2 separate regions of the Homo sapiens genome follow, and region 2 is reported to be linked to region 1. The links are microRNA targets in miRTarBase. Many come from high-throughput screens and were not tested one by one. Region 1 holds a microRNA gene; the other region holds the end of a gene's coding sequence.
What was found. Region 1 holds the annotated microRNA hsa-miR-193b-3p (AACUGGCCCUCAAAGUCCCGCU, at 2,417-2,438, opposite strand). A microRNA usually pairs through its seed, bases 2 to 8, with sites in the 3' UTR of a target mRNA and lowers its output. Matches are read on the target gene's strand: a 7mer-m8 pairs with bases 2 to 8, a 7mer-A1 pairs with bases 2 to 7 and ends in A, and an 8mer does both.

Region 1 (4,150 bases):
AACTGATCAGCAATGTTTTGTTTGTACACGCACTTTATTCTGGTGAGTGATTTTAAGTACCAAGTTTGCCTTAACTTTTCACTGCACTCATTTTTATCCTCATGGCTAAAATAGCTGTATTTGCTCCACAATCAAAATTAAAGGAGGGTGAGCTGATCGTTAGGAGGCTATAGTTGATCTGGCAAGAATTTCCATCTTTCTGTTCATAACGTTAAGTTGGGGGGTTGCTGGGAAGGGAAACAGAGAGAGTGTTCCCTTGGAGGGACTTTTCCAACTTTCATTGGTTTGAATCACCAACATATATTTTATTTTTAAGGAAGTATCATATTCATTGCAGAACCACCTCTAAATATTTTACTCCTGGCCATACCGTATTCTTTTCTATTGAAACATCTTTTTTGCCTCTCTGAGATCAGCTATGGCTTGGGGATTGCTAAGAACAAAATTCAAAGTTGCTTGTTTTTTGTTTTTTTTTTTCTTAAATCCACACTTCTTTGGGGGTTAGCGGGGGTGGGGAGGGAACAGCAACTGCTTAATGAAGTTTCTCACACAGAGGCAAAAAGAGAAAAGCCAAAATATATTCAGTGTATCCAGCAGTTCCATGCTGAATTTTTTTTTTCCTTATTGGTTGAGGGGGGTGTGTAGGAGGGTGGTGGGAAGGATCTGAAAAGAAGCTGTGATTCTTTGCTGAATTAATGATGACTTCTCACTGCAAAATGCTGATTTATAATCTCTTCACCATACTAGACTGTTTCCAGACTCAGAGGGGGGTTAAAGTTTGTTAAATGTATTCATAATTACATGCACAGTTTCAGACGGCTGAATATAAGTAATGCTTGTGCTGTTGCGAATGCTCACCATTAAAGCAGAAATTGTTTCACATTTAGCACTAAATTCTGTCTGATTTTGCACACTTAACAATTCAGTAATTTTAACATTCGGCTTCGTCGCCTCCATTATAGCTCAGTATCTTGGAGAAACAGTCAGTGTTCCGGCCTCGTTAATTCATGTAAAACACCCTATTTGTAGAAGTATCATTAAAGGCTAATTTGATGAGATATCCTTATTTAGCAAAGCAAATAGGATTTGACAGTCAGCTCCGGGTGGCGATTTAGCAAAGCACAAACACAATTCACAACGTGACAATTTCCCATCCACGCGCCTCGCTGGAATTGTGGACTCCTGAAAATTGTGCTGTTTCATCGTGTCCCATACTAAAGAGAAAGAACTCTGGAAGTAAAGAACTGTTTTTGCCAAGGCAGCACAAATGTCATCTGTGTGTACATGTGCCATGTCTTTCAAATCCTAAATCTTGTATCAAGAACGCTGTGTTCAAAGGTTTTTTCCAGGTACAGCTCACTTTTCTATTCCCTGCTATGTAGACTTAATTTAAATCTAGACTTGCAAATAACTTAGGATGTGTGAAAGTCTATATAGGTTACAACTATATAGGGTGTGTGTGTGTGTGTGTGTACACACAACTGAAGGTTAATGTTCTGCGACGGGGATTTATACACACTACCCTTGCTTTAGAGACTTCCCCTGAACGTATTATCCAGCCTTCTATAAAACGCCTGGCTGGGTGCAGTGGCTCATGCCTGTAATCCCAGCACTTTGGGAGGCTGAGGTGGGCGGATCACGAGGTCAGGAGATCGAGACCATCCTGGCTAACACGGTGAAACCCCGTCTCTACTAAAAATACAAAAAAATTAGCCGGGCGTGGTGGCGGGCGCCTGTAATCCCAGCTACTCGGGAGGCTGAGGCAGGAGAATCGCCTGAACCCGGGAAGCAGAGGTTGCAGTGAGCCAAGATCGCGCCACTGCACTCCAGCCTGGTCAGAGCCTGGACAGAGCGAGATTCTGTCCCCAAAAAACAAACAAACAAACAAACAAAACAAAACAGAACAAAAAGAACGCCTTCAACAGCAAAGAGTTGCAAAGAAATGTTGCAATTCCAGGTGGAAGCAAACAGCTGGTTTCTCCTAATTTAGCAAACGTAAAGACAAATCTAATGTCGTTACAATTCATCATTTCAGGAGCGCCTTATTTGGGGGCTTCAAACACTTTGCCACAATTGACATCCTACTAATTCCTTTCCAATCCAATACTGTCCCTTAAACCACTGTGGGGGTGGTCAGGGGGAATGTACTTTCTCCTCCTTGTATCGTTTTTCGGCCTCCCAAGGAGAGAAGCCCTTGGAAAACACAGTAGGTTCGGCAAACTGAGAACACACACTTATAAGAATACCGCCCTCGAAGGGACCTTTTAGTTTTATGGAAAGTAGCAAACCTCCCCCTCTTTCCCCGCCCCCCCGCCAGCCGGGTTTTGGACGCGCTCCCTGGGGGTGGTAGCTCTCTGCCCTCACCCTCCCGAGACTGCCGGGGCCTGAGTCCCTCGCTGTCCAGAATGACCCCAAAAGCGGGACTTTGAGGGCCAGTTGGATAAAACATAAACTCATCTCGCCCTCAAAACCCCGATTCTGAGACCACAGCCTCCAAAAGCCTCTTTTCCCAAGAAGTGAGTCCCCATTCACGGCTGACAGCACCGGGGCAGGCCGCCTTTGAGGCAAGAGTTTGGAGAACCGGGATCACTGAAGGAATCGTTACTGGGTGTTCCCTCAGGGCGGCGGTTCATCTCACCAAAATGCCAGGGGGTCGCTGTGGGAGGAGGGGACATTTGCCACACCATGGCTGAGGGCAAGAGGATCGCTTGATCCCGGGGTGTCTCTTCCCTCCCGGAGCAATCACCAATCTCGCCCAGCAAACAGGCCTAAAAGCTTCCCGGACAACACGAGGGGTGCCCCAAACGTCCCTTAGCAGCGGATAAATCGGGTGTCCGAGGTGCCTCGTACAGTTCCCCCCACCCCATCTCCAGCTAAATAAAGTTTGGTTATTTGTGTCCTTAATCGTCTCTCATTAAAGTCAAATTTGCTGCGCGCCCAAGTTGGGGGAAATGATTTCCATTTTAATAGCTTAATTAGCCTCTAGGTTCTGGAAAGGCCACTCCCCCACGCACCTTTTCTCCTCATTTTAACCCCCCTCCCTTTTTCACAACTTCTCCTAAAAATAAATTATAAATATGGATGTGTCCTCAGAGGACATAAGCGGCGCATTCCAACGCTCCGCTTGGTGGGGATTGGAAGCAAAGAGAAACCAGAAACGCCACTCCCCCCACCCCCAAATCAAAATGCCTTTTTCTTTTTTTTTCTAACTTCTTTTTCCTAACTTGGTGTTGTCTCGGGCACAGACACCCCGCTCCGCACCCCGGAACCTAGTTTTTTTGCCCCCGTCCTGCAGAAGCTAAAGCCAACGCGCCAGGGCTGCCTGCTTCTCGGGGGGAGGGAGCTGACAACTTTAGGGGGCGGCGGTAACTCTCTGGGGACGGTGGTTCCCGGCTAGTCCGGGATCCCCGGGGCCCGGCCCCCGCAGGCGCCGCCGCCCATGCCAGCGGGGCTCGGGCGCACGTGGAGCGGCGGGCGCGGCCGGCCTGCTCCGCGCGCGGCATTGAGATCGGGGTCACGCAGCGAGTCAGTTTCCCGAGCGGGCTTTCCGGGGTGGGGGCGGGGACGCGGACGCTCCACCGCCTCGTCAATTTCCAAGCCCAGGCACTAGGGAGGCTGGGGGCGGCCTCGCCCCCTTCCTACCTCCCGGCTTCACACGCCCCTCTGGGGAGCGGGGGAGGGGTCCGAGGGGGAGCCGGGGTGGCGGCAGCGGCGGCAATCGCAGCCCAGACAAGCGTCTCGCGCCGAGTCCCGAGAGAACCGCGCGCTCCCCCGCCGCCACCTCCCCTCTCCCGTTCCCATCCACCCCGCAGACAGCCGCCCCACACCCCTTCGGCCCTGGGGGCTTGGGCACCCACCTGCCGCGATCCCTGCCTTGGCTGGCGGAAGGTGCCAGGCGGGAAGAAGGGGAGCACTCACCGCCGCTGCCGCCTCCGGGGGTGCACGGGCCCCCCCACCCAGGGCTGCGCCTTCCCGGGCTCCGGGCAGGCGTGCGCCGGGCGGGGGGCGCCCCGCGGGCCCTGCAGCCTCCGCCTCGATTGGAGCCCAGCCTTAAATCCTCCACCGTGGAGAAGAAGGGTACTTCCAGAAAAAAAATCCGCCCCTCCCCAGACGAGATCCAAGTGATGGGCGGGGAGCGTAGAAAATCCTT
Region 2 (4,000 bases), not on the chromosome of region 1:
GACCCTGGCCTGCCGTTTTCAGTGGCATGGTGCCCTCTAGTGGTGAGAGTGAGGGTGGCCTCTGCTTGCTGCTCTGTGCTTCCTTAGATTTGGAAGTCTTAGAAATCCTCCAGTGGGCTGCCCTCTTTAAGGACGATGAGGGGGAGGAACTCAGCCAAGTCTGAGAGGGAGCTCGAAGAGAATTCAGATTCAGCGCCTTTCCCACAGACTTCTATGTCTATGTCAGGCTGCCCACCCTTGTTTTGGGGGTCCGGGGGTGGTTCAACCTGTCTTAACCTGTGTCTCTTTCTCCCTATACAGCAAAAAAAACGGAAAGCTCAGCCCCAGGACAGCCGTGGGGGCAGCAAGAAATATAAGGAGTTCAAGTTTTAGGTCCCCTCACACTAGCCCTTTTTTTGGCCCTACGTCTGGATGCCTGGGCTTCACACAAGAACCACCTCTCCCGCAGTTCCCAAGGACTTGTCATTTCATGTTCTTATTTTAGACCTGTTTTGTAAATAAAGCTGTTTCCCAAGGAAAGAGATGAATATTTAACACTCCTGAGCCTCCCTCATCTCCTTTTAGCCCCTTCTTGCAAAAGGACTAAAATAGTCTCTTTCTACAATCACTGGGCTGCCCCAGTAACCACGAACATAAACTGGGATTAGACGGCGCATTTGACTGGTGGTGACGCCAACCCCAGGCTGAAATCTGTGTTTCACCACTGCCCTGCTTTGTAGGAAGGCTTGGGGGAAGTACCTCTAGGTCTGGTTTGACCTTACTACTTTGTCCTTGGGGAGTAAAAATAGCCAGATTAGCGCCCTAGCGCGGCAGAGGAAGTAACAGTGGGCTTGGGAAGTAGGCCAGGGCAGGCCTTCCCAACTGACCTTGTGACCAGAAGTTCAAGTCCTTACCTGTGCGACAACATAGCTCAAAAGCTAAATTGTCTTGAGTCCATATGAACCCTTGGGTTCAAGCAACACTAGTCGCTGGGGTTTGGGATTTGTATGTGGGATGGGGGGACTTACTTTCTCCAGGTTGTAATCTGGTCCTGAGCAGCCTTTCTGACAGACTAGAGCAGGCTGGATCACTGGCTCCCATGGGCATTTGCCAGCCTGTGGGGAGGGTAGTCATGCGCTGCTGTTGTACTACTGTTGGTGTTTAAGTGCACCAGTGGAGGCGCTCACTTGCCGGAGGGTTCAAGATGGTCTCGGGGTTGTGGGGGGCATGATCCAGATAGGACGTGGCAGCTGAGCTAGGCCTTAGGAGGAATGGAATTTTAGAAATTTGGTAAGCAACAAAGCACTGGCACTCTAAAGAGGCATTTGGGGGGTAGGGAAAGAAGAGGAAGGTTGGCTCCAGATGGGCCCCGGGGTAGCTTGAGAATTCACTTATGCGAAGAACCTTCTGGACTCCAGGTCCCTGAGCCCCCGCTTGCCCTCGGGGCGGGAACTTCCCGGATCACAGGCACCCGCGGTGGCAGCGGGCCCCGGGTCTCCGCCGACCTCTCTGTTTGCCGGGGCCGCAGGGCAGGGCTAGGTCGGCAGGCGGAGAGCCGGCTTCCCCGGGCAGACCCCCACCGCTGGGGGCGGGTTCCGCATTGGCTCCGAAGACCCGAGGGGCCGAGGCGCGCTCCCGCGGCGGCCCCCTCCCTGCAGGGACCGAATCCCGGAAAAGCCGGGTTTCCGCTGGCGGGGCCGCGGCCGGCCGTGGGCGGGGAGGGGAGGAGCGGGGGCAGACTGGCAGCGGATTTGAGGGCAGGACCCGTGGGCGCGCGCTGGCCACAGACCACCCCTTCTACTCCGCGGGAGCGAGGGGCGCGCGTGGCTGCACGCAGGGCGCGAGCGCGCCCGGCCCGGCCCCTCCGCGCTGGGTGGGGCCGCGCGGGCCGGGCTCCCCGCCCCCTCCCGGACACGCCCACCCGTGTCGGCCTCGCGAGCCGCAACAGGCAGCGGCGGTCGAGCGCGAGGCCCGCGCGCCCAGAGGCCCCGCGCGTGCGTGCAGCTCGCTGGCTGCTCGCGCTCGGGCAGGCGGGCTGAGGAGGCTGCCGCGCCCCCGCCGCCGCCGCCGCGGGGGAAGCCTGGGAGCCAGATCGGCGTCGCCTCGGCCTCCGTAACCCCCGCCTAGCCGGGCCATGGCGGAACGCGGAGGGGCGGGCGGTGGTCCCGGAGGCGCCGGGGGCGGCAGCGGCCAGCGGGGATCCGGGGTCGCCCAGTCCCCTCAGCAGCCGCCGCCGCAGCAGCAGCAGCAGCAGCCGCCGCAGCAGCCGACGCCCCCCAAGCTGGCCCAGGCCACCTCGTCGTCCTCGTCCACCTCGGCGGCGGCTGCCTCCTCCTCGTCCTCGTCTACCTCCACCTCCATGGCCGTGGCGGTGGCCTCGGGCTCCGCGCCTCCCGGTGGCCCGGGGCCAGGCCGCACCCCCGCCCCGGTGCAGATGAACCTGTACGCCACCTGGGAGGTGGACCGGAGCTCGTCCAGCTGCGTGCCTAGGTGAGCGCGGGAGGGTGCGGCGGGGCGCCGGGGGAGCGGGGTGGCCGCCGGGGCCCAGCCCTCCCCGCCCCAGCGCCCATGGGGTCCCCGCCCTCCATCTCCCCGACTGTCCCGCGGCCCGGCCTGGCTCCAGCCAGGCCTCCCGGGACTCCTGCCACGGGGACCCGCCCTCTCCTGGCAGCCCCACCTTCTGCCTGGGGCCGGGACCACCCTTCTGTCCTCCCCGAGGGACCTTCTGGCCTCGGCCCCGGGCTTTCTCCGATTGGGCTGACCGAATCCGGCCTTCCTGGCAGTCAGTTTCCCTGAGTAAGTCACTCTCCTGCCTCGCCGGCGCCGGGAGCTGTACATACATGGATGTGGTATAGATCTCTTGATATTATTATTTCCCAATAGACTCAGCATGTGCCAAACTCGATTGTCACCTCTTGCAGGTAAAGCTCATATAATCACCCTAGGGGCTTCTCATTAGCCTTCGGCACACATGTTCATTTGAACTTCATATTACACACGTTCTGTCCCAAGCGCTAGGCTCTTAGTTTTGGGGCCCTATTTAATGTGTCCTCAAGTGTATTTTTACCTCCCCTCCCCCACTAAAACTGGTCCCAGAATCTCCCAGCTCTGCAGGGCTGTATGAAATTACTGCCTTGTTCCTAAATTCAATCCATTGCTCTCTGTCTGTTGGAACCATCTGGGGACTTTCCTTCCATTGGCAAAATAGGCCTGAGTTTGGGAATATTTTCTGTTTTTGTATTGGCAAGGCAGTCTGTCTCCAACTCTGGGGACAGGGTGCTGTGTCTTACAGTTTGCCACTTGAATAAGACGGTGTGTGGAGCTGGTTTCACCCAGAAAGCCCAGAGAAGTGCCTGGAGGTGTTCTTTTTTGTCACCTTGTAGCTGAGTTGATTCTGTTGCCTTGAAGTCTTGGGCTGTCTCCTCACTGTTGGTTAGGCAGACGGATGTGTAAGTCAGAGTTAGAGAGGATTGCTGGGCTCCCCCCTCGACTGTCTTCCTTTCCCCACCTTTATTCTGGATAATATTGTTTTATATATATATCCCAGATAGGAATGATGAGAGTACATCTTTCTGTTTCGCTCAGCTTAAGGAACAGAGCATTATCGCTTCTGTTGAAGCTCTCAGGGTGCCCCTTCCTGACTGTCTCCCCTCTTCCTTCTACAAAGGTAAACACTATTTTGAATTGTGTTTATCATTTCCCTTGTTAGAAAAAAATTAGTTTTACTACATAATGCATCTCTATATATTTTATAGTTCTGAATGTTCTTGAAGTTTGTGTACATGGTGTCATCCTGTATGTGTTCTGTGACTTGATTGGTTTTTTTATTTTTTTTTAAATCAGCATTAGGTTTGTGAGAATCATCCATGTGGTATGGTAGCCATAGTTTAAATATTTTCATGATGGGTAGTATTCTGTTGTGTGAATGAATATACCGTAATTCTCTTGAATATGTAGGTTGTTTCCTGTTTAACACCCACAGTAATGCACACATTTCCCCCCAGGACTCCTAGTGCTCTTG

Region 2: miRTarBase lists SF3B2 as a target of hsa-miR-193b-3p. The part of its 3' UTR that is shown has no 7-base or 8-base seed match.

Annotation. Positions count from the first base shown.
Region 1 is chr16:14,302,305-14,306,454 of GRCh38, reverse strand. It overlaps MIR193B (microRNA 193b), which reads right to left and starts at 2,488; the gene lies at 2,406-2,488. The region is part of intron 1 of MIR193BHG (MIR193b-365a host gene); the gene reads right to left. RefSeq lists silencers at 2,348-2,397, 3,351-3,590, 3,496-3,656, 3,941-4,150.
Region 2 is chr11:66,068,374-66,072,373 of GRCh38, forward strand. SF3B2 (splicing factor 3b subunit 2) reads left to right here. Exons shown (of 22, transcript NM_006842.3): 22 at 301-935. The coding sequence ends at 372. It overlaps PACS1 (phosphofurin acidic cluster sorting protein 1), which reads left to right and starts at 1,899. Exons shown (of 24, transcript NM_018026.4): 1 at 1,899-2,469. The coding sequence starts at 2,114. RefSeq lists silencers at 2-51, 1,459-2,078, 2,089-2,138, 2,289-2,418, 2,429-2,578 and 1 more.